4 linked regions of the Homo sapiens genome follow. The protein of the gene in region 1 interacts with the protein of each later gene in a biochemical or structural test. Each region holds a gene or a part of one and is shown in the gene's direction. Other genes may lie near its edges.

Evidence for each region.
Region 2: the proteins of FKBP8 (region 1) and CALM1 form a complex in vitro, tested with the Homo sapiens proteins (3 studies listed by BioGRID, with this or other methods).
Region 3: the proteins of FKBP8 (region 1) and BCL2 form a complex in vitro, tested with the Homo sapiens proteins (4 studies listed by BioGRID, with this or other methods).
Region 4: the proteins of FKBP8 (region 1) and EGLN1 form a complex in vitro, tested with the Homo sapiens proteins (2 studies listed by BioGRID, with this or other methods).

What each region holds. Positions count from the first base shown.
Region 1 is NC_000019.10:18,540,566-18,547,808, reverse strand, and holds the start of FKBP8 (peptidyl-prolyl cis-trans isomerase FKBP8), read left to right. Parts: upstream 1-4,235; 5' UTR 4,236-4,323; intron 4,324-5,813; 5' UTR 5,814-5,838; coding exon 5,839-6,130; intron 6,131-7,243. UniProt on the Homo sapiens protein: Constitutively inactive PPiase, which becomes active when bound to calmodulin and calcium. Seems to act as a chaperone for BCL2, targets it to the mitochondria and modulates its phosphorylation state.
Region 2 is NC_000014.9:90,400,029-90,407,048, forward strand, and holds part of CALM1 (calmodulin-1), read left to right. Parts: intron 1-36; coding exon 37-67; intron 68-1,230; coding exon 1,231-1,374; intron 1,375-3,833; coding exon 3,834-3,940; intron 3,941-4,350; coding exon 4,351-4,486; intron 4,487-4,660; coding exon 4,661-4,689; 3' UTR 4,690-7,020. UniProt on the Homo sapiens protein: Calmodulin acts as part of a calcium signal transduction pathway by mediating the control of a large number of enzymes, ion channels, aquaporins and other proteins through calcium-binding. Calcium-binding is required for the activation of calmodulin.
Region 3 is NC_000018.10:63,316,770-63,324,698, reverse strand, and holds the start of BCL2 (apoptosis regulator Bcl-2), read left to right. Parts: upstream 1-4,929; 5' UTR 4,930-5,525; exon of another isoform or gene 5,526-5,746; 5' UTR 5,747-6,032; coding exon 6,033-6,617; coding exon of another isoform or gene 6,618-6,650; exon of another isoform or gene 6,651-6,745; intron 6,746-7,929. UniProt on the Homo sapiens protein: Suppresses apoptosis in a variety of cell systems including factor-dependent lymphohematopoietic and neural cells. Regulates cell death by controlling the mitochondrial membrane permeability. Appears to function in a feedback loop system with caspases.
Region 4 is NC_000001.11:231,419,277-231,426,928, reverse strand, and holds the start of EGLN1 (egl nine homolog 1), read left to right. Parts: upstream 1-4,641; 5' UTR 4,642-5,040; coding exon 5,041-5,931; intron 5,932-7,652. UniProt on the Homo sapiens protein: Cellular oxygen sensor that catalyzes, under normoxic conditions, the post-translational formation of 4-hydroxyproline in hypoxia-inducible factor (HIF) alpha proteins.

The sequences.
Region 1 (7,243 bases):
GAGGCTGCAGTGATCTGAGATCTTGCCACTGCACTCCAGCCTAGGCGACAGATTGAGACTCCATCTCAAAAAAAAAAAGGTTCAGTTCACCAGGAAACACAATTGCAACTCTACATGCAGCCAATGATATGGCCTCCAAGTAGAGCAGTCTTGTTTTTTTGTTTTTGTTTTGTTTTGTTTTGTTTTTGAGATCGAGGTCAAGAGTTTGAGACCAGCCTGACCAATACAGTGAAACCCCGTCTCCACGAGAAATGCAAAAATTAGCCAGGCTTGGTGGCTGGTGCCTGTAGTCCCAGCTACTCCAGAGGCTGAGACAGGAGAATTGCTTGAACTTGGGAGGCAGAGGTGGCAGTGAGCCGAGATCGTGCCACTGCACTCCGGCCTGGGCGACAGAGCGAGATTCTGTCCCAAAAAAAAAAAAAAGGGAAAAGCAAATATAAGTAAAATGTTTGCCTGCAAATATCTGTTCAATGAGTGCCAGCCATTATTATTATTGTTGGTGGTGTTATTTTATAGTTTATTTTAGTAGCTTATTAATTTATAATAATAATTATTACTATTATTTTAGAAACAGCGTCTTGCCTTGTTGCTCAGGCTGCAGTGCAGAACTTTGATCATAACTCACTGTAGCCTCGACCTCCTGGGTTCAAGGGATCCCTCCCACCTCAGCCTCCCATTTAGCTGGGACTACATTTTTAAATTTTCTGTAGAGGCCAGGTGTGACGGCTCATGCCTGTAATCCCAGCACTTTGGGAGGCCAAGGCAGGTGGATCACAAGGTCAGAAGTTCAAGACCAGCCTGGCCAACATAGCGGAACCCCCCCATCTCTACTAAAAATACAAAAAATTAGGCAGGCATGGTGGCAGGCGCCTGTAATCCCAGCTACTAGGAAGGCTGAGGCAGGAGAATTGCTTCAACCTGGGAGGCAGAGGTTGCAGTGAGCCGAGATCACACCATTGCACTCCAGCCTCACTAGACTCTGTCTCAAAAAAAAAATTAGTCATGTGTCATGGCAGGCGCCTGTAATCCCAGCTACTTAGGAGGCTGAGGCAGGAGAATCGCTTGAACCTGGGAGTCAGAGGTTGCAGTGAGCCCAGATCGTTCCACTGCACTCTACGTGGGAGACAGAGGGAGACTGTGTCTCCAAATTAATTAATTAATATTCTGTAGAGGCAGGCTCTCACTACGTTACCCAGGCTTAGGTTGCCCAGGCTGGAGTACGGTGACGTGATCTTGGCTCGCTGCAACATCTGCCTCCCGGGTTCAAGCGATTCTCCTGCCTCAACCTCCCAAGTAGCTGGGATTACAGGCATGTGCCACCGCACCCGGCTAATTTCTGTATTTTTCGCAGAGACAGGTTTCACCATGTTGGCCAGGCTGGTCTCGAACTCTTGACTTCAGGTGAACCATCTGCCTCAGCCTCCCAAAGGCTGTTTTTGAGACTGGGTCTTGCTCACTGCAACTTCCACCCCTGGGGTTCAAGCAGTCCTCATGCCTCAGCCACCCCAGTATCTGAGATTACAGGCATGCACCACCATACCCGGCTAATTTTTGTATTTTTAGTAGAGACGGGGTTTCACCATGTTGGCCAGGCTGGTCTAGATTTCCTGACCTCAGGTGATCCACCCACCTCGGCCTCCCAAAGTGCTGGGATTACTGGCATAAGCCACCGCACCCAGCCCTCCAGGTGATTTCTTACATAGCTCTGCTATGCTACCACCTTTAACCTCCCTTCCTTCCTCAGTGATTTCCGTGAGACCCCACCACTACCTTTTGTGGCAGGCACTGTGCAAGCCTCAGAGCTATAACAATGAGAAAGAACAAAGCCTTCCCAGACTTTGGGGCTCTGCCAGTGTAGAGGGCAAGGCAGAGGTAAATCAAAGCAGTGGCTCACGCCTATAATCCCAACAGTTTGGGAGGCCAAAGTGGGAGGATTGCTTGAGCCCAGGAGTTCGAGACCAGCCTGGGCAACATGGGGAAACCCCATCTCTACAAAAAATATAAACATTGGGCCGGGCGCGATGGCTCACGCCTGTAATTTCAGCACTTTGGGAGGCCGAGGTGGGCAGATCACAAGGTCAGGAGATCGAGACTATCCTGGCTAACACGATGAAACGCTGACTCTACTAAAAATACAAAAAATTAGTCGGGCATGGTGGCAGGCGCCTGTAGTCCCAGCTACTTGGGAGGCTGAGGCAGGAGAATGGTGTGAACCTGGGAGGCGGAGCTTGCAGTGAGCCGAGATTGCGCCACTGCACTCTAGCCTGGGCTACACAGCGAGACTCTGTCTCAAAAAAAAAAAAAAAAATTAGCTGGACATGATGGTGCACCTGTGGGCCCAGCTACTCAGGAGGCTGAGGCAGGAGGATTGCGTGAGCCCAGGAGATAGACATGGTTGCAGTGATCTGAGATCGTGCCACTGCACTCCAGCCTGGGTTTCAAAGTAAGACCCTATCTCAAAAAAAAAAAGGCAGAGATATAAGTAAACTAGTTTGGGAAGCCGAGGCAGGCAGATCATGAGGTCAGGAGTTCCAGACCATCCTGGCCAACATGGTGAAACCCTGTCTCTACTAAAAATATACAAATTAGCTGGGCATGGTGGCGGGTGCCTGTAGTCCCAGCTACTCAGGAGGCTGAAGCAGGAGAATCGTTGGAACTTAGGAGGTGGATGTTGCAGTGAGCCGAGATCGCGCCACTGCACTCCAGCCTGGCGACAGAGAGAGACTCTGTCTCAAAAAAAAAAGAGAAAGAAAAAAAAAAAAAAGGCCAGGCACGATGGCTCATGCCTGTAATCTTTGGTACATCGAGGTGGGCGGATCACGTGAGGTCGGGAGTTTGAGACCAGCCTGACCAACATGAAGAAATCCCGTGTCTACTAAAAATACAAAGTTAGCCAGGCATGGTGGTGCATGCCTCTACTCCCAGCTACTTGGAAGGCTGAGGCAGGAGAATCGCTTGAACCTGGGAGGCAGCGGTTGCGGTGAGCTGAGATTGCGCCATTGCACTCCAGCTTGGGCAACAAGAGTGAAACTTCTTCTCAAAAAACAAAAACAAACAAACAAACAAAAAACCCAAGTAAACTAGTTATGAAGTGGACGTTCATCAACTTCATTGTGCCAAGACAGCTAAAGGGGGCACCTGGTCTTGCCTTGGGGAGGTTGGGAGGGCTTCCTGTAGGAGGTAACCTGGGAACTCCAACCTTAGAAGTGATCTCCAAAAAGCCAGTTACCACCTCCATGATAGCTACCTCCAAAAGCTGGTGTCTGACTCATCCATCCATCCATCCATCCATCCATCCATCCATCCATCCACCTACCCATTTATTGAGCTTCTATAGATGCCAGGCATGGTTCAAGGAGGTGCTGGGTACAAATCAGGTAAAAATCTCTGCCAGGATGAAGCAGAGTGAGGGATGGTCCCTCCAACCACAAGCAAAATAATGACAAGATAATTCTGGAAGGAGTAACTGCTAGGAAGGAAATAAAACTGAGTGAAGGAGGGAGAAGTGTCCCGGTTTCAAAACAAGATCCACAAAAACTTAGCTAATCAAGGATGCCACCTTCTTCCCGAGCCATGGGGACCTTATCACCCTCCAGCAGACAGTGCATAGAGGAGGAACTCCTCCCAGTGGCCCTGCTGGCTCAGTCGCCTGCGCAGCAGTAATCGAGCGCCTCCAGTATGCACCAGGCAACCTTCTAGACATTAAACTGTGTGGGGGATGGGAGGGAGGTTTCTGTATGCCTTTGGGCACGTCACTCCTCCTCAGGCCCTCAGGTTCACTTCTGTAACTAAGGCTTCAGGATGGGTCATTCAGCAACCCCAGAGCTGCCCTGCCCGTCAAGCTTGAACTCTTTAAGGAAATAACATTTAGAGTGGACTGTGCCCCCAGCAGCCCCCAAGGTGAGAGTGCATAGATGGGGGTGTTTATCCCCATTTCGCAGATGGTCAGGATGAAGCTCAGAGGAGAGGCAGGAGTCGCACAGGCTGCGCGATACTGACCCGTGTTGGGGTCCAGCCCAGGGTCCCCCGCCCCCGCCCCAGCCCCCGCCCCAGCCCCCGCCCCAGCCCCCGCCCCAGCCCCAGCAGCCGGGAGGCTTCGGTCCCTTTAAGAACGCCCCGCGGGGCCAAGCAGGAAGGGGGAGGTGCCAACGCCCGGGACGGACGTCTGCATGAGCCAACGGGTGCGGCAGTCGCGGCAGCGGCGGCCAATGGGCACGGCAGGGGCGGGGCCAAGCGGCCGAACCTGGTTCCCGAGGCGCGGCGGCCGCGGCTGGGGGCGGGGAGGGGGGCGCAGGACCCCAAGTGGGGGTCCCGGAGCCAGAGGCAAGTGTCCTGGGGTGCTGGGGGCGCCGTGCCGGCCGGGCCGCTGCCCTGGCCTAGGCTGGTCCGGGGGCTAGCGCGCCGGGGGCTGCGGCCGATGGGCGGGGCGAGGGGCCGCGGGGGTGGCGAGCCGGGGGGGCACGGGGGTCGGGGGTGCCCGAGGGGGCGCGGCCGGGCGGGGGTGGCCAGGGATGGGGGTCACTGGGGGCAAAGGGGATCCAGTGGGGGGGTCCCGATGGAGGCGTGCAGGGCCAGGGGCGCCCGAGGCGTGCGGGGGTCGGGTGCCCCAGACTGGTGGCGTCAGACAGGCGTGGGTCGTTGGGGGCCTGGGTCGCGGCTTGACTGAGGGCCCGGCCGGGGCTGTGGGGCGTCAGGAGAGCGTGGGGTGTTATGGGATCGGAAAGGGGGGGGCGTCTGGGGACACTGGAGTGTTTACGGCGAGACGGAGCGGCTGTGGGGGGAGCTGGCCCGTGCTGGGGGCGGTGGTGGTTGGGGTGGGGGGTGGGAGGGGAGGCCGAATTGTGCGGGCGCGGGGAATTATGGGGGTGGGGGCTGGGAGGGTCTCTCAAAGTGGGGCTCCGAGCCCGGGAGGAGCAGGCAGGTGAGGGTTAGGGAGGGGATGCGGCGGGCTGGTTTGATGGCTGTGCCACACTCTTCTGAGCTTGGGGCCTGGGGGACGGAGGGGTTGGTTATTGGTTCAGGAGGTCTGGGGCAAGGAAGAGGCTGTAGAATGTGGTGGGACCTCGACCACTCCTGGAAAGGAGGCTGCTTTGAGGGGGTGGGACCGAGGCCTGATGAGAGGAGGATGGTCTCCTGGGGAAGGATTTGGGCCAGGGTCCCTGATGTTGGGGTTGTGGGGGATAGTGTTAGATTCAGAGTGTGGAAGGAAAAAACGCTTGGGGTTTCTGGGTGATTACAGTTGGTGCTTTTGGGGAGGGTCTCCCCTTTGGAGAAGAGGCTGGAGGTGGGAGGCCCTGGTAAAAGATTCAATTTCCCCCAGTGGCCTTAGAGGCTCTAAAAATGGCTTCCCTAAGGCCTCGGAGGCTGTCCTCTCCACAAAAATCCCAGCACCCTTCGCTCAGCTTATAATCAGGCAAAGCCACAGGGCCTGAAGCCCCAGGTTCAAATCCTCCTTTGGCCTTTGGCTTTCTCTGTGACCTTGGGCAAATGCCTTTGCCCCTCTGGCCTGTTTCCTGTTCTGCAAAATGTTGAGGGGAATCTTCCCTACTTCCTGGAGTATTTGTAAACATTAAATAATAATTAGCTCTAATAATGGCTAACACTATTTGAGCCTGATGCCAAGGGCTTGATGCATGGGTTAATTTCTCCCAACAAGCTGGGGTTGTTGTTACACCCACTGTATAGATGAGGAAACTGAGGCCTGGAGCCCTTGAGTTACACAGAAAGTGATCGGCAGTGTGGGGAATCAGTACAGTGGAGACTTTGAGGGGCTGTGTAGGATTCTGACCCACATCTCTGCCCCCCACTTCCAGGGCCAATTCCTGTCCCCCCAGCAGCATGGCATCGTGTGCTGAACCCTCTGAGCCCTCTGCCCCACTGCCCGCCGGGGTCCCACCGCTCGAGGACTTCGAGGTACTGGATGGGGTTGAGGATGCAGAGGGTGAGGAGGAAGAGGAGGAGGAAGAGGAGGAAGAGGATGACCTGAGTGAGCTGCCACCGCTGGAGGACATGGGACAACCCCCGGCGGAGGAGGCTGAGCAGCCTGGGGCCCTGGCCCGAGAGTTCCTTGCTGCCATGGAGCCCGAGCCCGCCCCAGCCCCGGCCCCAGAAGAGTGGCTGGACATTCTGGGTAAGGAGCAAAGGTGGATCAGGGTGCCCTTGGCCCTGGCCCTCTCGTCCCCTGAGCCTCATTTCCCCATCTGTGCTGTGAGGGTTGGAAGTCACGTGGTCACCACCGTGATCACCAGCCAGAGGCAACTACTGGAGATGCTTCACATTGATGTACTCTATCCACTGACTCACACACATGCACAATGTGCTGTGTCCCCGTTTCCCAGATCTGCTAACAGTGGCTCAGAGAGGCTGAGTCACCTGCCCAGAGCCACACAGCCAGCACGCCAGGCGCTGGCAGCTCCTAACCCCATCAATGCATCTTTTTTTGGCATTTGTCTGACACATGCTTGGGCTCTGAAAAATGTGTCCTGAGTGCACGCCAGCCTGGGCAACACAGCGAGACCCCAACTTCCAAAACAAAAAATGTGTTCTGGGGTCAAGTGGATCAGAGGAATGTTATTTTGTTCAGCCTTCTGGTTGGTTCACAGTAGTGATAGTATTGTAAATGCTCAGAGCAATCCTACAAGAAGAAAACTACATGAGCCCCCACATGTTCCCCCCAACATACCCCATCACAGCAACTGAAAACAAGAGAAATGTTAGTTTTCTGTGGAAGACGTCTTGCTACTAGTATAGTACTGATATCTAATATACCAAATAATGCTGGTGCCCATGCAAATAATAAGATATCATTACCACTATCAATTGTAATAACAATACTGTAGCAATAGTTTCCAATCATATTGACACTGATGGAACAGAAATATTACTAAATATCACCACCACTACTGATAAAAATCTTACTACTTTTTTTTTTTTTTTTGAGACAGAGTCTGACTCTGTCACCCAGGTTGGAATGCAGTGGTGCGATCTCAGTTCACTGCAACCTCCGCCTCCCAGGTTCAAGCGATTCTTCTGCCTCAGCCTCCTGAGTAGCTGGGACTACAGGTGCCCACCTCTATGCCTGGCTGATTTTTGTATTTTTAGTAGAGACAGGGTTTCACCACATTGGCCAGGCTGGTCTCGAACTCCTGACCTCAGGTGATCCACCTGCCTTGGCCTCCTAAAGTGCTGAGATTACAGGTGTGAGCCAGCACACCTGGCCCCTAATTTTTGTATTTTTAGTGGA
Region 2 (7,020 bases), on another chromosome or scaffold:
GTGGACTGAATGATAACCTTTTCTTTCTTCATATAGGCTGATCAGCTGACCGAAGAACAGATTGCTGGTAAGTTGACAACTCCAAGGAGTCCCCAGAAGGCCAGAACTAGGCACTGACTCAGTTTTGGTGACTCCTCTGTTCCTCCCCGCTACAGTCTGGGCAGTTTTCTAAGAATTTATTTAAATAAGAACAGTAAGCAGAAACACTGAGGTCAGATGTTATTCTTGCCAGTACTTTATAGATGAGGTGAAAGGAAGTAAAACTAAGGATGCCCACATGTTAAACTCTGGAGAATTTGACCATGTTTCACAATGTGCAAAGTTTGCGTATGATTAATTGTACTGAGCCTGCTACTCAGCGGTTTAGTTTACAATTCTTATGCCATGGGTCTTTCAGTAATCTGCCACGAAAGCTTGTGCTCGCTATCCTAAAATAAATGGAAATGGGTGAATATGAGTGTTAGGACCACTGTAGTAATTGGGAAGAAAGTTACATTAGTTAAACTCTGTTGCCCAGGCTGGTCTCTAACTCCTGGGCTCAAGCAATCCTCCTGCCTCAGCCTCCTGAGTAGCTGGGACTACAGGCATGTGCCACCACGTCTGGCAGATTTTAGCTTTTTAATATTCCTGGAGGACTTGTTTTGAGACTGTTTCTCGTTAGGAAACCAGGAATGCTTCTGAAATATTCTAAAAGTCATGTGGAGAGAGTTTACCTGGGAATGTACATTTCTAGTAACCATTTTATTTGTTATGAAACAAGGGATTCTTATGGCTTTAGAAATGTAACAGGAAGGGATTTGAAGGGGGCACATGGACCAATCTTGTCAGATTGGATTTAGTCCCTTGAACCTGGGAGGCAGGGGTTGTAGTGAGCTGAGATTGCACCACTGCACTCCAATCTCGGTGACAGAGCGAGACTCCATTGTTTAAAAAAAAAAAAAAAGATTGGATTTAGGACTAATTTAAGCATGTTCCAGCTTAGCCGCCTTGAAACCTTTGGGAATATTGTGGTGTGTGGCACTGTTTATTGGGAGCAGTGTTTGCTTTATGGGCTGCTGTATGAAGGCCAGTCCAACAGGACTATTGTGGTCATTATTTCAGTAGATAAAGACCAGACTTCTGATACGTTGCACAACTTGAATGGCTGGCTTTGGCAAGCCCCCGGCAAGTGTGTATTGTGACTGGGTTGGATAAAGACATTGATTCTAACGGGTCAACTTTTGTTTTCAGAATTCAAGGAAGCCTTCTCCCTATTTGATAAAGATGGCGATGGCACCATCACAACAAAGGAACTTGGAACTGTCATGAGGTCACTGGGTCAGAACCCAACAGAAGCTGAATTGCAGGATATGATCAATGAAGTGGATGCTGATGGTAAGAGCTTTAAAACCATGAATGAGGGCCATTGTTGTGTAATTCAAGTTCAGACATGTTACAGGATTGTCTTTCAGGTCCCCAGAGCAAAGCAAATGTGCAAAGATCCTTTCTGTGGTTGCCCCAGGGCCATTGACAATTAAAATAGAAGATGATGGGCCTTGCGTCCATCCTGCTTAGTGTCTAGAATGTTTTCTGCATGGGATCACTATTGTTTTCTTCCTGCTTGGTGCGACCTAGAGCTCAAATCTATTTTTTTTTTTTTTTTTGGAGACGGAGTCTCGCCCTGTCGCCCAGGCTGGAGTGGCACTGGCGCGATCTCGGCTCACTGCAACCTCTGCCTCTTGGGTTCCAGCGATTCTCCTGCGTCAGCCTTCTGAGTAGCTGGAATTACAGGCGTGTGTCGCCACGCCCAGTTAGTGTTTTGTATCTTTAGTAGAGATGGGGTTTCACCATGTTGGCCAGGCTGGTCTCAAACTCCTGACCTCGTGATCCGCCCTCCCCGGCCTCCCAAAGTGCTGGGATTACAGGCGTGAACCACTGCTCCTGGCCGAGCTCAAAGCTTTTATCAACTGGCCCATGAGTCTGCACTGAGTCTTGAGGGGGGAGGTGAAATTAAATAGCCATAGAAAGTGCTTTTTAACAAACTTACTGTGTTTAAAGAGGAGGAGGAACCCCCAGATGAAGTAGGTGACGAGCACTCTTAGAAGTTACCATAAAAGTGAGTACAGTGTGAGCTGTAGATGTGTTTGCTGCAGAGGAGCATGTGAGGTTTGGAGGCGGATGTGTGGTGACTCCAGGGGATAGATTTGCAGAACCTAACGGAAAGGGAAGCTGTAAGGTGCAGGGCCAGAGGGAACCAGCAGTAACCCTGATAGCGGTCTGTCATCTGTTCCTCTCGACTCTACAGCAGCGGACAACAGAACTTTGATTGCTGATTTCCATCAGTAAGCAGGCTTTGAAGCACACTTCCCCACCCCTAAAAAAAAACCACGTATTTTGGTAAATCCTATATATATTCTAATGTACTGTATGACAGTATAGAACATGATTTTTAAAAGATGAGTTGGGAGGAGAAAAGGATAAAAGAAAAAATAAAAGAAGCATTAAGAATAAACAATTCGGATCTAGATTTTACTTTCTAGATGATTGACTCGAGGGTGGTGTAGTAAAATCGCTTGTCTGGTCACAAACATTTGGCAGCAGAGCTTTTGATTAGGTTCTTTGACAAAGCCTTCAGCACGTTAGAGTGGTTTTCACTAATAGTGTTTTGGAAAGAAAAGGTTGTCCATAGTTCTCTAGTTTGCTAAGATGATCAGCTACCCAGGAACGTGGAGTAACTTCCTCTTGTTTGTGGGAGCCCCGGGAATCTGTGCCTGGGGAGGGGAGAAGTCTGTTAGGCTCTTGGATTGTGTGGAAGAAGGAGAAGTTGTGCCAGGCTACAGAATCCTGTGTTTGCACTGAGAAAACAGGATGGTACCTGACCTTCTCTGCATGGCTGTGAGATAGCTTAAAATAATTTCTTTTGTTTTTGATGAATATGAACAATATCTTAAAATTTTTGAGGCTAAAAAAGTCTTGAAGGGATCCCTGAGGTATTTTCTTTGAAAGGTACTGGTGAAAATGAGTAACTTAACCTAAGGGTTTTTCTTTCTAATTTTATTTCCATTTAGTTCAATGACACTGTTAGTCTGGAGTGCTTGTCTTTGGGGGTATTCATCTCTTAGTTTTAAAGAGGAGTTGTTTGGAGTACTGGCCGTAGAACAGATTGTTCTGACAGTTCCCTAAGTGTTACTAGTCTGAGCTGTGAGAATGCTCCTGAGCTTTTCCCTTAATGGGAAATAAAGATACTGAGTTGGAAGAAAACAGGTGGCTAACCATCATAGCGTGGCCAAGAAATGATCCTGGAGAAGACTTGGTAAGACTTCATGGCCCATGCATGGCATAACAGAATCAATGTTCCTCTCTCATAATCTTTTCTCCTCTGAAACACTTTATACACTTAACCTGCAGCTCAGTTCTAGGCCTTTTTTGTGTTACTGCTGTCACTAACCAAGGCAGAGTGAGACCTGAGTGATTTCCCTAACTCAGGGATGGCAGTCGGGGGCGCTTTCTTCCCTCGGAGTGGAAAGATTCAGCCTGCGGAGTGGTGTATGCTATTTTTCTCTTGAACTGTACAGCCCTTCATGACCCTTCCATGGGCTTGAATCCAGATGTGCAGTTTCCTTTGTATAATTAAATACTATCCTGGGCACTGATGATGAGTTTGAAATTATGTGAAATTGCCCTGTGAAGTGTTTGAACGTTTTAGACCTGCAGATGATTGAACCTAGTAAGATAGTCTGCCCCTTTGTCCTAGTACATGTTTACCGTTCCGTACAGTGGTTCTGAAATGATTACTGCAGAGCAGCGTTAATGGAGTGCTTACTTTACATGAGCTTTTTGTTTTTTAATTCGAGGTAATGGCACCATTGACTTCCCCGAATTTTTGACTATGATGGCTAGAAAAATGAAAGATACAGATAGTGAAGAAGAAATCCGTGAGGCATTCCGAGTCTTTGACAAGGTAATCCAGCATCTACATAGCAGATGGTACTTAAGTATGGCTTCTTCCGCTTTCACTTCTAAAAGCTATAATAATGTTATAGACAGAAGACTTAAATCTAACTGCCTGAGCCTCTGATCTCACTTTCAAAAATCCTCCTTATGGTAACCGTATCAGGGGAGGGTAGGCATAATAAATAGGAATTTTGGACCATGTTTCTTGACTGTTACTTTGAATTGTTGTGAGCTTTTGCAAATCCTGTTTTCTGCATTAGCTGTTTGCATGTATTTAGTAGGTTAGAGGTGGGAACTAGAGATCAGAGAATTGTTTATGGCAGCAGAGTTAGCAGTAACTTGAGAGGGCATAGCTAAGTCAAAGACCTACTTCCCCACACTACATCATTAGCAATAACAATTGCTGAATGTTCACAGGATGGCAATGGTTATATCAGTGCAGCAGAACTACGTCACGTCATGACAAACTTAGGAGAAAAACTAACAGATGAAGAAGTAGATGAAATGATCAGAGAAGCAGATATTGATGGAGACGGACAAGTCAACTATGAAGGTAAAACTAAATTCTCTGAGCTCAGTGTTTCATAGTCTTACCTTTAGATCTGTAAGCAAGCCAACTGCTTCACTAGACAGCCTTTGACTTTATTTTATGTACAGTAAAGATGTTGTGTTCATTAAAGCTGTTTTCAAAGATAACCAAAAGTTACTATTATATTTGTCTTTTCAGAATTCGTACAGATGATGACTGCAAAATGAAGACCTACTTTCAACTCCTTTTTCCCCCCTCTAGAAGAATCAAATTGAATCTTTTACTTACCTCTTGCAAAAAAAAGAAAAAAGAAAAAAGTTCATTTATTCATTCTGTTTCTATATAGCAAAACTGAATGTCAAAAGTACCTTCTGTCCACACACACAAAATCTGCATGTATTGGTTGGTGGTCCTGTCCCCTAAAGATCAAGCTACACATCAGTTTTACAATATAAATACTTGTACTACCTTAATGATAAGGACTCCTTAAAGTTCCATTTGCTAATGATTAATACACTGTTTGGGCTGGCCAGTTTTTCATGCATGCAGCTTGACGATTGAGCACAGTCAGGCCTTTGTATTAAAAATGAAAAATGAAAAAACAAATTCAAAACCTATTCAAATGGGTTCTAGTTCAATTTGTTTAGTATAAATTGTCATAGCTGGTTTACTGAAAACAAACACATTTAAAATTGGTTTACCTCAGGATGACGTGCAGAAAAATGGGTGAAGGATAAACCGTTGAGACGTGGCCCCACTGGTAGGATGGTCCTCTTGTACTTCGTGTGCTCCGACCCATGGTGACGATGACACACCCTGGTGGCATGCCCGTGTATGTTGGTTTAGCGTTGTCTGCATTGTTCTAGAGTGAAACAGGTGTCAGGCTGTCACTGTTCACACAAATTTTTAATAAGAAACATTTACCAAGGGAGCATCTTTGGACTCTCTGTTTTTAAAACCTTCTGAACCATGACTTGGAGCCGGCAGAGTAGGCTGTGGCTGTGGACTTCAGCACAACCATCAACATTGCTGTTCAAAGAAATTACAGTTTACGTCCATTCCAAGTTGTAAATGCTAGTCTTTTTTTTTTTTTTTCCAATAAAAAGACCATTAACTTAAAGTGGTGTTAAATGCTTTGTAAAGCTGAGATCTAAATGGGGACAAGGCAGGTGGAGGGGAGGCCAGTGTACATGTAAATGCCCACAGCCCAGCATTGGGTTTCCCTCCCAAGGCCCCAGCACCAACCTCTGAGCCCAAGACCTTGCCTGAAAACAAGCAGATACCGATTGCTTCATCCTATTTATGGACATGTAGGTCTAGTTGCATTTTCACTGGGGGGAGGGGGGAAGGTGAATTATGGTAACTTTTAATGATCTATTCAGGCAGTAGAGCTCTTAAGGAAAAAAAAAAACCCACTTTCTCTCAAGCATGTATTTAGGGGTTGTTCTCAATTGTGCTGCTGATTACCTGTCTTATGTAACTACTTGAGACCATCTGCAAGAGACATGATTTAGTGTGTCTGTAATTCAATCTTCGCTGTGTGTGGTAGAAGCAGTAGTCACTTTTGTAAGCCAGTCTCTTCATGCCTAAAAGACACTACCAGTCACCTTTGATTCGCGACTTTTAATTTATGATTATACTTAGCCTCCTCCTCCTTTTTTTTTTTTTCCCAAGTTGACTTGACTTTGCTTTTTTCCCCCCAAGTAGAACTAATGCTAGCTTCCAGCTTGAAAGTAAAACTCCAGTGTGGAGTGAATTTTGTGTCTAATTATAAACCTGTAACCAAAACTCAGACATCTGGTACTGGTCTTTGCATTGAGATTGGTCCCTGTAAAACCCCCTTTAAAAGCATATTGCATTTAGTACAGAGCTCTTTTTTGAAATGAAGGCTGGAGATGTGCATTTTTCACGGTGTTAACTGGTTGTATCTTATTAGCAAGGAGATTGGGGTTTTGAGTGTTTGCGTGGGTGGTTTCAATTTGCCAGGGAACAGTGGCAGGCTGCTAGCAAGGCAGTGAGAAGCTCTTGGCAGCCAAATGGGTGCATTCAGGGCTGATTTATAGAGACCCTTGGCTTCTCCTTCTCCTACTCCCTGTCTTTCTGGCATTTTGTAGCTTGTTAGATTTTCTGCCAGAGGGGTGGGTCAGAGCAGTGGAGGGGAGACATCGCCCATGTGCTTCTGCTACTGGTCCTTGGGCTGGGTGGTTGGTAGAGGAGATGTTGACACTATGAGCTAAGGGTTGGCTTTTGTAATTACCTGAATCTGAAAGGAATGCCTAAGGTTACCTTGGGGTTTCTCTTCTGGTGAGATAGGGTTCCTGGTTTGAGTAAGTTAATGTCCTGGATATTTCTTGTGGCAGGGGGTGGTCAAAGAGCCTGATTGCTGACCCAGTCTCAGGCCTGTGGTCGATGACCTCTCGGTAGTTTCAAAGGGGGCTGGAGGGGGATATTTGACTTGTTTTTTCGAAATGTAGCCTTCTAACCCTCAAGTCTTTAGAAGCTGGGTGGACTCTTAGTGGTCCTGCAGCGTATCCTAAAAGACTACCTTTGAAACAGGA
Region 3 (7,929 bases), on another chromosome or scaffold:
AAAGCATGACTGGGGCTTATATAATGCTTGCTGGCAATGTATGCAAACCATTTGAAAGAGCATGGCACTACCTACCACACAAATTTATAATGTATAAGATTCTTGAAATTGGAAACTGGCATTTTGGATTGCTAATCTAAGCCTATGAGAAGTTATTATTATTATTATTATTATTATTATTATTATTATTTTTGTGAGACAGAGTCTTGCTCTGTTTCCAGGCTGGAGTGCAGTGGCGCGATCTTGGCTCCCTGCAACCTCTGACTTCCTGGTTCAAGTGATTCTCCTGCCTAGCCTCTCGAGTAGCTGGGATTACAGGCACTTGCCACCATGCCCAGCTAATTTTTGTAGTTTTAGTAAAGACAGGGTTTCACCATGTTGGCCAGGATGGTCTCGATCTCCTGACCTCGTGATCCATCCACCTCGGCCTCCCAAAGTGCTGGGATTACAGGCATGAGCCACTGCACCCGGCTGAGAAGTTATTTTTTAAGCAGTTTTCTTTCTTTCTTTCTTTCTTTCTTTTTTTTGAGATGGAGTCTCACTCTCTCACCCATGCTGGAGTGCAGTGGCATGATCTTGGCTCACTGCAATCTCTGCCTCCCGGGTTCAAGCAATTCTCCTGTTTCAGCCTCCTGAGTAGCTGGGACTACAGGTCCCCGCCACCACGCCTGGCTAATTTTTGTATTTTTAGTAGAGACGGGGTTCCACCATATTGGTCAGCCTGGTCTTGAATTCCTGACCTCAGGTGATCTGCCCACCTCTGCCTCCCAAAGTGCTGGGATTACAGCCGTGAGCCACTGCGCTCGGCCTCATTTTTCTTTTATGCAAACTATATGGACTACTTGTTTTTATTCTCTCTAGTCAGCTCATTTTATTTATGGATTAATTTCCATTTCAGGTTGGGGCCATGGTTTACTCTTCCATCTGACCTATTAGTTATCAATATCCTCAGTTAATAGTCTCATTCTACCCACATTTTCAATAAAAAGTTTACTAGCTGGGAAGATTTGATACACACACATGATTTTTTTTTTCTTTTCTTTTCTTTTTTTTTTTGAGACAGGGTATCAGTCTGTCACCCAGGCTGCAGTGCAGTGGTGTGATCACAGCTCACTACAGCCTCCACCTCCTGGGCTCAAGTGATCGTCCTATCTCAGCCTTCAGAGTAGATGGGACTACAGGCACACACCACCATGCCCCGCTAATTTTTGTATTTTTTGTGGAGATAGAGTTTTGTCATGTTGTGCAGGCTGGTCTCAAACTCTTGGCCTCAAGCAATACACCCACCGCAGCCTCCCAAAGTGCTGAGATTACAGGCATGAGCAACCACACCTGGCCGATACATACCTATATTAAACATTAGTATGTTCATGTTAGAATAATGTACCTTTTGAATTTCATAAACTTGGAGAATATTTATATTGATGATGGATGAAAGAACTTTCTTGGATGGATGAAGAGAGTAACGCTGTGAAACAACCAGCAGGTGGCGAAAACTGGCAATCAAAAGCTTTTTGTTTGGTGGCCTGGGGAATGAAGACGGAAAGAAAACACAGGCCATTCAGACTCTTGATACAATCTCCATTCCCTGCATCTTGTTTTTTTTCTCTTCCTGGTGCCACGCTACTTGTAGAATCCAACCAGGTAAAGCTGCCAAAAGGGTCATCCATTGGCTCTTACAAGTAGAAAACATCTTGGAAAGTGAAAAGTCCACTGTGCATATGTTTGTAAGGTTGTTGGAAGGTCTCAGGCATAGATCTAGGATTCAAATCCAGTTACTCCTGCCTCAGGCTGGTGTTCCCTCCCCCACCTCAGCATTGCCCAAAGACGAGTAGTCAATGTCACATACTTCCTGGGAATACTTGCCCTTATGCTTTAAAATGGAATCTAATAAACATGGAATCTGAACGCAGGAATGGTTTCACTCTTTCATTTGAAAGAGTATCTAGAACATTCCCAGGGAAAATATAACCCCTAGCCAAAGACTGCAATACAGACCTGTCTCAAGACTGATTATAGCCAAGATGCCACATAAGGAATCAGTCTGGGAAAATCCATAGAGTGAGGCTCTGTGGGAGCAAAGGAAGACGAAAATCAGTCAGCTTTTCTTTCTCTGGAAGTAGGGGATCCGTTTCCTTCTGGCTGCCCCCTTTGCAGAAGTACAGTTTCTTTTGCAGGTTTGTCCTATCATTTCCTCACTCATATGCTGAGTATTAGGAGCTTGAAGCCTTTCAATTCCTCTTAGGTAATTTTGGGGCTTTAAAATACGCTTTCAAGATTTCTAAACCATACTGTTGTGCAATTGGTATGAATTTATGTGAGAACATTTATTCTAGGTCAATCTATACCCAGTGTCTATCCAGACCAAAACACCTCCCACGCGCATAAAAGGGACTCTGTCCCAACCATCAGAAGGGCAAGAAGGAGGATCTCCTTTCATCCCCTCTTGCCTGGATAAGAAATTTGTACCCAGGCCCCCATTCCTATGTGAGAGAAGTTGGCTTGTTGGGCTGATGGGATACAATAAATGAAGAAATAAAATAAAAACACCCAAGAGAGATGGCAGTGCGTATAGTCCCAGCTATTCATGAGGCTGAGGTGGGAGAATCCTTCGAGCCCAGAAGTTCGAGTCCAGCCTGGGCAACATAGCAAAAGCCATCTCTTAAAAAAAAAAAAAAAAGGCCAACTAAGTAAAAATTAAAAAAATCATAATTTGGTGTGCTTTTCTGGCTTTTTAAAGAATGTTTTGATTTTAGAGTAGGAATGAGACAAAATAAAGATGTCAGGCAGGGCACAGTGGCTCATGTCTGTAATCCCAGCACTTTGGGAGGCTGAGGCAGGCGGATAACGAGGTCAGGAGTTCGAGACCAGCCTGGCCAGTATGGCGAAACCCCGTCTCTACTAAAAATACAAAAATTAGCAGAGCGTAGTGGCGTGCACGTGTAATCCCAGCTACTCAGGAGGCTGAGGCAGAATTGCTTGAGCCTGGGAGGCAGAGGTTGCAGTGAGCTGAGATCGCACCACTGCACACCAGCCTCCAAGATACAACAGAGCAAGACTCTGTCTCAAAAAAAAAAAAAAAGTCATAGCATATTTGTACACATTGTAGTACTCATTTGTCATCTTTCTTGACCCCAATAATCCAGTGTCCCTATATATTTGCACTCGAGCCCTATTAAGTAAGCCGCTGTGCTTCTAGAAGACCTTTTTCTTTTCTTGGTGCTTTGTCAAAGACTCTTGGAGATAAAAATACACACGTGCAACTTGTTTGTCCTCTTGTCCTTTTTTGCTAGGGGCTATTCATGCTGATTAATTTAAAACTGTCTGCTTGCGCGTACACACGTCTGCGAGTGTGAATGTGTATGTGTGTATCTATGTACCTCATTTGAGAAAGTGCGGCCAACTAGGATTGGCTACGAGGCAAAGGTGGAGACCTTTAGGAGCCCACCCACCCCAGCGTTAGGACGGTGGGCCTGAAAGTTACTATATGGAAGTCCTCATCGTGTAGCACTAAACCAGTGTAAAAGGTGTTAGGGACAGAGGGAAAACATTGACTTAAACTGTCGTAAAGCCCTTGATAAACCCCTTCCCTGGAGCGCTGAGTTCTGCATGGCCTGGGCCACGGACTAGGTGTTCAGGTGGACACGGGCGGGGATGCGCGTGCGTGTGTAGTGCGCGGACACCTAGGAAGCTACTTGAAAGTAAACACCACGCTCGGGGCGTCCCTAGACATTGCTTAAAACGTGCAGAGTCACCTGTCTTCACAGCAGGGCAGCGCTGAGGTCCCACTGCTGGGGGCGGTGGGGGGCGGCATTGGCCTGGGTCTTCCCCCGGCGGCCGAGCGCCGGTAACACAACGTGTGTGTGTGTAGGCGCGTGTACACACTCTCATACACGGCTAGAAAGGGTCCAGGCGACACACACACTCCCACATACACGGCTAGAAAAGGTCCAGGCGAGACACACACACACACACACACACACACACACACTCCACACACACTCACACGGCCAGAAAGGGTCCAGGCGGTTCCCGGCGCTTTTCCAGCCCTTGTTTTCATGGCGCACCCTCCCGCCAGCCGCCCCCCTCCGCACTCCGTCGTCCGCCCGGCCCGGCCGCGTGCGGTTCCCCGGGAGCCCCCACCCCGTCGCGGACCCCAGCGACCACCAAGTCCGCACGCGGCCTGCCGCAGGCCTGAGCAGAAGGCCCCGCGCACACCCACCGCGCCGCGGCCGCGCGGGAGGCCTGTGCCGCCCGCGCCACCCACTGGCCGGGCCCCGCGGGCGCAGCGGAGCGGGCGGGTGGCCGGCCCGGACGCGCCCTCCCCGGCCGCGGCCCCGCGCGCCATGTGCCCCCGGCGGGACGCGCCACTCCCGGGCCTGCCGCGGCGCCTTTAACCCGGGCCAGGGAGCGGGGCGGAGGGGGCGGTCGGGTGGCTCAGAGGAGGGCTCTTTCTTTCTTCTTTTTTTGAATGAACCGTGTGACGTTACGCACAGGAAACCGGTCGGGCTGTGCAGAGAATGAAGTAAGAGGACAGGCACCACAGCCCCGCTCCCGCCCCCTTCCTCCCGCGCCCGCCCCTCCGCGCCGCCTGCCCGCCCGCCCGCCGCGCTCCCGCCCGCCGCTCTCCGTGGCCCCGCCGCGCTGCCGCCGCCGCCGCTGCCAGCGAAGGTGCCGGGGCTCCGGGCCCTCCCTGCCGGCGGCCGTCAGCGCTCGGAGCGGGCTGCGCGGCGGGAGCTCCGGGAGGCGGCCGTAGCCAGCGCCGCCGCGCAGGACCAGGAGGAGGAGAAAGGGTGCGCAGCCCGGAGGCGGGGTGCGCCGGTGGGGTGCAGCGGAAGAGGGGGTCCAGGGGGGAGAACTTCGTAGCAGTCATCCTTTTTAGGAAAAGAGGGAAAAAATAAAACCCTCCCCCACCACCTCCTTCTCCCCACCCCTCGCCGCACCACACACAGCGCGGGCTTCTAGCGCTCGGCACCGGCGGGCCAGGCGCGTCCTGCCTTCATTTATCCAGCAGCTTTTCGGAAAATGCATTTGCTGTTCGGAGTTTAATCAGAAGAGGATTCCTGCCTCCGTCCCCGGCTCCTTCATCGTCCCCTCTCCCCTGTCTCTCTCCTGGGGAGGCGTGAAGCGGTCCCGTGGATAGAGATTCATGCCTGTGCCCGCGCGTGTGTGCGCGCGTGTAAATTGCCGAGAAGGGGAAAACATCACAGGACTTCTGCGAATACCGGACTGAAAATTGTAATTCATCTGCCGCCGCCGCTGCCTTTTTTTTTTCTCGAGCTCTTGAGATCTCCGGTTGGGATTCCTGCGGATTGACATTTCTGTGAAGCAGAAGTCTGGGAATCGATCTGGAAATCCTCCTAATTTTTACTCCCTCTCCCCGCGACTCCTGATTCATTGGGAAGTTTCAAATCAGCTATAACTGGAGAGTGCTGAAGATTGATGGGATCGTTGCCTTATGCATTTGTTTTGGTTTTACAAAAAGGAAACTTGACAGAGGATCATGCTGTACTTAAAAAATACAAGTAAGTTCTCTGCACAGGAAATTGGTTTAATGTAACTTTCAATGGAAACCTTTGAGATTTTTTACTTAAAGTGCATTCGAGTAAATTTAATTTCCAGGCAGCTTAATACATTCTTTTTAGCCGTGTTACTTGTAGTGTGTATGCCCTGCTTTCACTCAGTGTGTACAGGGAAACGCACCTGATTTTTTACTTATTAGTTTGTTTTTTCTTTAACCTTTCAGCATCACAGAGGAAGTAGACTGATATTAACAATACTTACTAATAATAACGTGCCTCATGAAATAAAGATCCGAAAGGAATTGGAATAAAAATTTCCTGCATCTCATGCCAAGGGGGAAACACCAGAATCAAGTGTTCCGCGTGATTGAAGACACCCCCTCGTCCAAGAATGCAAAGCACATCCAATAAAATAGCTGGATTATAACTCCTCTTCTTTCTCTGGGGGCCGTGGGGTGGGAGCTGGGGCGAGAGGTGCCGTTGGCCCCCGTTGCTTTTCCTCTGGGAAGGATGGCGCACGCTGGGAGAACAGGGTACGATAACCGGGAGATAGTGATGAAGTACATCCATTATAAGCTGTCGCAGAGGGGCTACGAGTGGGATGCGGGAGATGTGGGCGCCGCGCCCCCGGGGGCCGCCCCCGCACCGGGCATCTTCTCCTCCCAGCCCGGGCACACGCCCCATCCAGCCGCATCCCGGGACCCGGTCGCCAGGACCTCGCCGCTGCAGACCCCGGCTGCCCCCGGCGCCGCCGCGGGGCCTGCGCTCAGCCCGGTGCCACCTGTGGTCCACCTGACCCTCCGCCAGGCCGGCGACGACTTCTCCCGCCGCTACCGCCGCGACTTCGCCGAGATGTCCAGCCAGCTGCACCTGACGCCCTTCACCGCGCGGGGACGCTTTGCCACGGTGGTGGAGGAGCTCTTCAGGGACGGGGTGAACTGGGGGAGGATTGTGGCCTTCTTTGAGTTCGGTGGGGTCATGTGTGTGGAGAGCGTCAACCGGGAGATGTCGCCCCTGGTGGACAACATCGCCCTGTGGATGACTGAGTACCTGAACCGGCACCTGCACACCTGGATCCAGGATAACGGAGGCTGGGTAGGTGCACTTGGTGATGTGAGTCTGGGCTGAGGCCACAGGTCCGAGATGCGGGGGTTGGAGTGCGGGTGGGCTCCTGGGGCAATGGGAGGCTGTGGAGCCGGCGAAATAAAATCAGAGTTGTTGCTTCCCGGCGTCCCTACCTCCTCCTCTGGACAAAGCGTTCACTCCCAACCTGACCGATAACGCCTGCCATCTAAAAGTCTTTAACTTGCTTGCTAGTCGTGGAGATCCAAAGATCTAGCGTTTGTAATCCAGTAGGATGTGGTGGTAAATGGTACCCCTTCAGTGTTTCTCAAGCTGAAGGTCCAGGAGTCCCCAGGACCACCGTTTCCTGGCTTGAGCAGCTTGTTGGAACCGGAGGGAGGTTTCAGGGACTGCTTATGAACCAGATACCAGGTTGGGTCTTGACAGTCTGCATCCCAAACAAGCTCCCCTGAAACAAGCCCGTTGTACACTAAAATTGGAGAACAACCCGATTAGAAGAATAGACTCCACAGAAGACCAAGGGCATCATCAATCGGTAAAATTTTCCAAAAGAGGAAAACCAATGTAAGTCTTTTTCCCTGAAAAACTTAGTTGTGTTTGTAAAGAGCTAAGTTGACATTCCAAAGTCCTTGGACTGGAATCTCCAGTGTGTGCCATGTTCCCAGTGGGCGTGATGAGGTGTCCTGAGGAGTATCAGGCTATGGCTTTGCTACCTTGTCAGTGACAGAATTTGCATCGGCTGCATTCTTTGTATTCTATAATTTGTGTATGGTTTACCAGTTTGCTAGAATGTTAGAATCTTTTGTTTTTCACCACTCAGAGTGGACCTAATTTTGTGGTCGGCTGAAAAAAATTTGCATCTAGGTATCTATGTAAAGTGTAGAAGAATTGATTCTTAGCTGTGGATTATCTTACCCTTACTTTAGTTGAAGTGATTGATACCTGTGGCTTTGAAGAACATTTGTGAGATGATCTTTTTCTCGTACTGTGCTAGATAGAGCTTTCATCATTATACCATACAATTGTACTTTTCTGAGATTCTTTGTTGGAGGGGGTTTAGTTCCTAAGAGTCAAGGATTGTAATGGAGATCTATATCTCATATCTAAAATGATGAATTTATGAAAAAGTAATTCTTGTGTGAAGTTTTTTTTTTTTTTACACTTTTTGTTTTAATCTGAAGAGTTATCTTTGAAAAACAGGATGCAATTCAGTGCTTCCTTTTATAGCCTCTTGGGAGAATGACTAATGTCATTATTTTATAGGACCTAACAGGAGCAAAAAGCCTAGAAATTACTGCAAGTGGATTAGATGTCAAGAAGCACA
Region 4 (7,652 bases), on another chromosome or scaffold:
ATTTAGGAGGAATGTTAGAATTAGAAATTCATTATTTTGCAACGTCTAATGAAATACTGGATTGAGTCACAATTAATGGATGCTAAAATAATCAGGTGATGTTTGATGAAAAACGTAATGTAGGAATCAGGCTGACACCACCTCAACCCATGAGCAATATTTCGTCATTAAAATGCAAGTATCAGACATATGTGCCTCATGATGTGATGTAATAGGAAATACACGGCAACTACCACAAAGTATGCTTACCTAAAATATAGAACCTCAATCTAATAAAAATCCTAAATCTACCTATTTGCAGAAATAGGAGTAATATCACAAGGAAGTAATCAGCTAAATCTAGAATATGGGACATTCCGTAGTACAAATGGCCTAGTTTCTACAGTAAATCTATAGTATGAAGGGTGAGATGCTGGTAAAATTGAGTAAAAGGGACTTAAGAAATATGACAATTTGTGATGGTATTAGGTGGGGCGGGGTGGAGGAAGAAACAACTAAGTGCAATGTATGGACTTGTTTAGATCTTGAATTGAATAAAGCAACTGTAAACAGAATCTTTGATATAATCGAAAAAAATTTAATACTTGGAGGATGATGGATAGTATTGAGATTTTTCTTAATTTTGTGTGATAATGGCATGGTGGATATGATTTTTGAAAGTTCTTATCAGATGTGCATATTGAAGTTGGGATATGCTTTATAATACTTTAGCAAAAAAAGTGGGGGACATAGTAGGGAGGAGGGTAGGGAAGAATTGTCTATCAACAAATGTTGATAATTGTTGAAGCTGATAACTGTTGAACTCATTAGGGCTGAGGTTGATTATACTATTATCTCTCTTTTTGCATATGTTTAACTTTTCCCACAAGAAAATGTTACAGGAAAAATTATTTAGCTTTCTCCAACCTGGGTTGGTATAAGTCACTGATTGTGACTATCCCAAAAGTTGGTTCAACATTAAGGTAATGTTTGTTAGGAAAAAAAATTAGATCGACACGTTATTTAGTATCCCAGGTTTTTGAGCATTTATTTAAAAAATTCGCTATAATGAGAGATGATTATAAATTTTTGTTATATTTCTGAGATGATCAATTTTAACAGGATTGGTGGTAATTTTTCAATCATAAACTGATAAAGTTTGATGACTGATAAATCGCCCCAATATATAGCAAATCTATTCAATTATTTTGTTTTCATAAGGGAACAACCTTGGTGGAAAGTACAGCTGTCTCCATGTACAAGGAGAAGCACATAGCTCACGTGTGCATCTGGCAGAACCCCCAGTACAGAGACAAGCAGGTGCTGTTTTCCAATGACACCTACTTGTGTGTGTCCTAATACTATAGTTAGAAAATGGCTCAGATTTTTGAGTTGCTTTTCCCAGAACTCAAAGATTGTCTTCCTGTTTATCTTGGTGGAATGCCTATGCTATACTTGTGATTTTTCTGTTCTCTGTAACCTATTAAAACAAGATTGTCACAGATGGGGAAACAAGAGGTCATTAGTTAACAATCAGATGTTCGATTTCTTGAGCAGAAAAGATACTCTGTTGTGTTTTTAAAAACATTTTTAAAGGAGAAATAGGGCTACTCCTTGGAAGGCAGATTGTTGTTCAGTGGGCTTTCCTCAAGAGTCAACACAGTCGTTTCTAAATTCATTTCCTCCTTCAATTCTGTTCTTGTAGTTAACATAAGCTTTGCCTCTTTTAGTTCTTGTCAGTTCACAGTGGCTACTTCTTTATAGCTTAACTAAATACTGCCAGAAGAGCAAAGGGAAGCCAAATAGGTGGTCAATTAGCTTTGTCTAAGTTGGTATGATATGGAGAGGAAAGCACTGTTACTTTAATTCATTCTTCAGTTTCTAGAACAGTTGCTTTTGATTAGGTTAGGGGCAGAAAAACATTTGTAATAATTAATGGCTTTGAGAGACACAAGGCTTTGTTTGCCCCAGAGTATTAGTTAACCCACCTAGTGCTCCTAATCATACAATATTAAGGATTGGGAGGGACATTCATTGCCTCACTCTCTATTTGTTTCACCTTCTGTAAAATTGGTAGAATAATAGTACCCACTTCATAGCATTGTATGATGATTAAATTGGTTAATATTTTTAAAATGCTTAGAACACAGATTGGGCACATAACAGCAAGCACCACATGTGTTTATAAGATAAATTCCTTTGTGTTGCCTTCCGTTAAAGTTTAAATAAGTAAATAAATAAATAAATACTTGCATGACATTTTGAAGTCTCTCTATAACATCTGAGTAAGTGGCGGCTGCGACAATGCTACTGGAGTTCCAGAATCGTGTTGGTGACAAGATTGTTCACCAGCATATGGTGTGGTGAAAACTCACTAATTTGGAATTAGTTCAGATTATTAAGCCTGAATAGGTGAAAATCCTGAAATCAAGGATCTTTGGAACTATTTGAAATCAGTATTTTATATTTTCCTGTTGTATTCATTAAAGTGTTGCAAGTGTTCTATTTGATGGATTAAGTATATTTAGGATATACATGTTCAATTTGTGATTTTGTATACTTAATTGGAACAAGAAAGCTAATAAAGGTTTTGATATGGACATCTATTCTTTTAAGTAAACTTCAATGAAAATATATGAGTAGAGCATATAGAGATGTAAATAATTTGTGGACACACCACAGACTGAAATAGCAAATTTAAAAGAAATTGTTGGAAGAATCAAGTGTTTGTGGAATGAGTCCTCCTAGTAAAGTTCCTGCTCTTGTGAATAATTAAGCCTCATGTATAATTACTATAGCAAAAGGAAGCCTAAGAAGTATTAGACTCTACTTGTATTTAAATTACATTTTACATAATTTATGTGTATGAAAAATGTTTTAAATGCTTATTTTCGTAAGCCATGAGATAGCTCCTTTATATTTTAAGAATTTCTGAATTAATTTGCTTGGATTTTATTAGTGCAAATGGCAGAGCTAGCAATTCCTTTTTCTGTGTTCCCATTCCATCCTATTCATCCCTCTTTTAGGAAACTCTGAACTCTGGATTGTCCTTGTTTACATACCTGCCTCCTGCATTGGACTATGTGTCTCTGAGTGTAGTATGACTAATTCATTTGTTTGTCAAGGACTCTCAATGCATTTGTTGAACAGCCTAATTAGTAATGTCTGCAACAATGACATTTTACTGTATTTAATAAAGCTCTGGGAAAGTAGGATACACATAAGACAGGTCTAGGTCTAAATTCTTTACAGAAACTTGGATTTTTAGTTCGGTTTGAAATTTGAAGATGTGAGTATATTTATCTCAGTTTCCCAAAGGACAAGCTAATTGGAATTATCATCCTCTTTCACTTGATTGGATCCCCAGAATGCCATTTACGCATGCAGCAGGATTTTATAACAGTTTTAAATTCTGTATATTTGATGAAGAGGTTTTATATTTTTGGATTCAAGCCTCTTTTTAAACTTCTACAATATGGTTTACAATAATTCCTTATATCCTGCTTTTGAAATACATATTACAACTTTTTAAGTTTGGAAGGCTATATTTCAAGGACTGAAGTTACAGTATACTCAAGTGATACACAAGCCTAGCACCCCACTTTCCACATAGTGTTCGATAAAGATTGATAAACTCGAAATCACAGACCTTTTAATTCTTAAGACAAATAGCAGCAGAAAGAAACATCTTTGGCTTATTTCTGGTAAGGTTTTTATGCTCTGTAAAACAAAGAATTGTATTCATCCGCGCAGCACAGATTCTATTAAAAATAAATGTGAGAGTCGTTAATGTAGTACTGCTCATTTACCATCAAAATTCACTTTTCAGGAATAATCCCATCAGTTTAAATTGGATATTGGAATGAGCATTGATTACATTTAACTTGGTAGCCCAAAATTTCTTCATGGGGTTTTGAACTCGGCGGGATTTCAAAGGTTTTAAAAATGAGTTTTTGATTTTTTTTAAAACCCTCAAATTTCATTACCTTTAAACTAGGTCGAAACGGGGCGCAAGAGATTGGATTAACACCATAGTAATACTTATTTTGTTCTTAACCATTTCAGGGCTTCTTGAAATAGAGGCTGTATGGTGTAATGGAAAAAACAGCCTTGGAATCTGGGAGCCTGATTCCTGGATTCAGTCCCAGTTTTGCGTGACCTTGGGCAAGTTACTTTACTTCTCTGAATTTCCGTTTCCTCCTCTGCAAAATGAGGATCGCAATAGCCACCTTGCAACCTTGACTGGAGCGAGCCTCGCACACCCCGCGCCGGCCTGGAGGAAGAGCAGCCATGATTACGCCGCCTTCGCTCCGCTACCCGCTTGCGGCTGGCGCCCTCCTCCAGCAGGTGTAGGCGCTGCCGCGCTGCCCCACGCCTTTCCGCCGCTCGCGGGCCTGCGCCTCGGCGTCCCCGAGGAGGCCGCTGCGGGCTGAGGTAGCGCACCGGCCTCTCGGCGTCCCAGTCCGGTCCCGGGCGGAGGGAAAGCGGGCGACCCACCTCCGAGGCAGAAGCCGAGGCCCGGCCCCGCCGAGTGCGGAGGAGCGCAGGCAGCCCCCGCCCCTCGGCCCTCCCCCCGGCCCTCCCGGCCCTCCCTCCGCCCCCTCCGCCCTCGCGCGCCGCCCGCCCGGGTCGCCGCGGGGCCGTGGTGTACGTGCAGAGCGCGCAGAGCGAGTGGCGCCCGTATGCCCTGCGCTCCTCCACAGCCTGGGCCGGGCCGCCCGGGACGCTGAGGCGGCGGCGGCGGCCGAGGGGGCCGGTCTTGCGCTCCCCAGGCCCGCGCGCCTGAGCCCAGGTTGCCATTCGCCGCACAGGCCCTATTCTCTCAGCCCTCGGCGGCGATGAGGCGCTGAGGCGGCTGCCGGCGCTGCGCCGGAGCTTAGGACTCGGAAGCGGCCGGGCCGAGGGCGTGGGGTGCCGGCCTCCCTGAGGCGAGGGTAGCGGGTGCATGGCGCAGTAACGGCCCCTATCTCTCTCCCCGCTCCCCAGCCTCGGGCGAGGCCGTCCGGCCGCTACCCCTCCTGCTCGGCCGCCGCAGTCGCCGTCGCCGCCGCCGCCGCCGCCATGGCCAATGACAGCGGCGGGCCCGGCGGGCCGAGCCCGAGCGAGCGAGACCGGCAGTACTGCGAGCTGTGCGGGAAGATGGAGAACCTGCTGCGCTGCAGCCGCTGCCGCAGCTCCTTCTACTGCTGCAAGGAGCACCAGCGTCAGGACTGGAAGAAGCACAAGCTCGTGTGCCAGGGCAGCGAGGGCGCCCTCGGCCACGGAGTGGGCCCACACCAGCATTCCGGCCCCGCGCCGCCGGCTGCAGTGCCGCCGCCCAGGGCCGGGGCCCGGGAGCCCAGGAAGGCAGCGGCGCGCCGGGACAACGCCTCCGGGGACGCGGCCAAGGGAAAAGTAAAGGCCAAGCCCCCGGCCGACCCAGCGGCGGCCGCGTCGCCGTGTCGTGCGGCCGCCGGCGGCCAGGGCTCGGCGGTGGCTGCCGAAGCCGAGCCCGGCAAGGAGGAGCCGCCGGCCCGCTCATCGCTGTTCCAGGAGAAGGCGAACCTGTACCCCCCAAGCAACACGCCCGGGGATGCGCTGAGCCCCGGCGGCGGCCTGCGGCCCAACGGGCAGACGAAGCCCCTGCCGGCGCTGAAGCTGGCGCTCGAGTACATCGTGCCGTGCATGAACAAGCACGGCATCTGTGTGGTGGACGACTTCCTCGGCAAGGAGACCGGACAGCAGATCGGCGACGAGGTGCGCGCCCTGCACGACACCGGGAAGTTCACGGACGGGCAGCTGGTCAGCCAGAAGAGTGACTCGTCCAAGGACATCCGAGGCGATAAGATCACCTGGATCGAGGGCAAGGAGCCCGGCTGCGAAACCATTGGGCTGCTCATGAGCAGCATGGACGACCTGATACGCCACTGTAACGGGAAGCTGGGCAGCTACAAAATCAATGGCCGGACGAAAGTAAGTGTGTGCTGCGGGTTTGTGCTGGACAGGCCCTTCTCGGCGGGCAGCCCCTGCCTGCGACTGAAACTGCCTAGGCTGAGAAGCAGCATTCCTCTATATAGAAGGGACTCGCTCTTTCTTGTGTAGCTCCCCGTAAGGAAGACGGACAGAATTTGTAGTAGCTGTTTATCTAGTTAGCCCCTTTGTATCCACTGTTTTCCACTTACTGCCCGTTCACAAACTTCTCCGGCTAATTGCATGGTTTTTTGACTCAACGTAGGCGCTTTAACTTTCCTATTTTCTTTTTTCCATTCCACTATTGGTCACAATTCAAACCTTAGTGGCGTTTTAGCCACCCAGTGAAGGGGTGTTAGAGTACCACCCAAAGCAAGTCCTGGTTCTGCATCTGCCTTGTGTTTGCATAAGCTGTTAAATTTCCTATGGTGTCTGAACCACTCATCACATTTCGATTGAGAGTCAAACGCTGTGTTCAGTTAGGAATTTGCCGGCTGACCGCAAAAAGGTACATTTAAAATAAGCATTTAGTCGAAAGACTCTGTATTCAGGAAGAGCTTGGCTACTCCCCTCCCCCTGTTATAGCTCTTATCCCTCACCCTGTTCCTACTGTTTTGAAACCCGTTACAAAAAGGGGAAAGAAGTATTTCCGTCTTCAGGCCTCTCAGTGTAGGTAGGCTACATTTTTAGCACCAGTTTCCTTTATTTGCTTTGTTAATGTAATCCTTCTGTTGAAAACTGTTTTGTAACTTCCTGGAAAACAAAACAAAACAAAACAACAACACGGAATTGGCGCAGGAGGGCTCGTTTTATCCTCCCAATTTGGTGAGATCTTTTTGTTTTCTCTTTACTATTGCGGTTTTTCCTCCACAGATTTCTTCACTTCTTACCTAGTCTATTCCCTCTTTCCTCCCTCATGATAAACAGTAGACTCTTTCGTCCTTAACCAACTCTCTTGCAGCTCTTTTTCATTTTACTTCTCAGATCTTGATCTTTTCTTTGTGGCTGCTCCCAGGCCACCCTCCTCCACCATCAGTCTCTGATTTTGTGGGTTTTGAGAGATTGACCTGGGAGAGCATCACAGTTGCATGTTTGTACACACACGCTGACTCTAACTAGTGGTTTTTCTGTATGTGTGTGTCAGATCATCTACTTTGACAGTCATTACATGTGATTCTCAGGCTGCCCGAAAGACTGAACATAGGCAGTGAGAAAGTTATAAACGTGAACATTTTGTGGGGAAAAATACAATGTGGAGTCTAATTTACCTATTGCCACTTCATTGCTGGATGAAGGCACAAGTCTTAATTTCTTGTAGTCTTAAAAAGGAACAGTTGAATAATATTAAACTGGAAGGAAAAGGGGGATCTGATGAAATTTCAGCGTTGGTCTTTCACTAGATTTTCATTGATAAAATTTTTAAGAAAGTTGTCAGGGCACAACTTTAAGAAATTGTCACATCTGAACATAAAGTCCTGAGCTCCAGAGCAGGAAAGAAATTAGTTTGAGACAATAGGGCTGTGAAGACTGACCAAAGTATATAGTTGGGACATAAGCTTAAATTGGATTCTTGAAGAAGATGATGTCCCAAATCTTTCTTGATCTGCTTTCCTTAGTTAATTTAGCTTTCCAAGTTAAGCTGAGACCTCTTTTCTCTTTTGTCTTCCTGCTTTCACCTGTCCTTAGAGAAGGGACAGCAGACAGCCTGGCTCTTAGAGCAAATG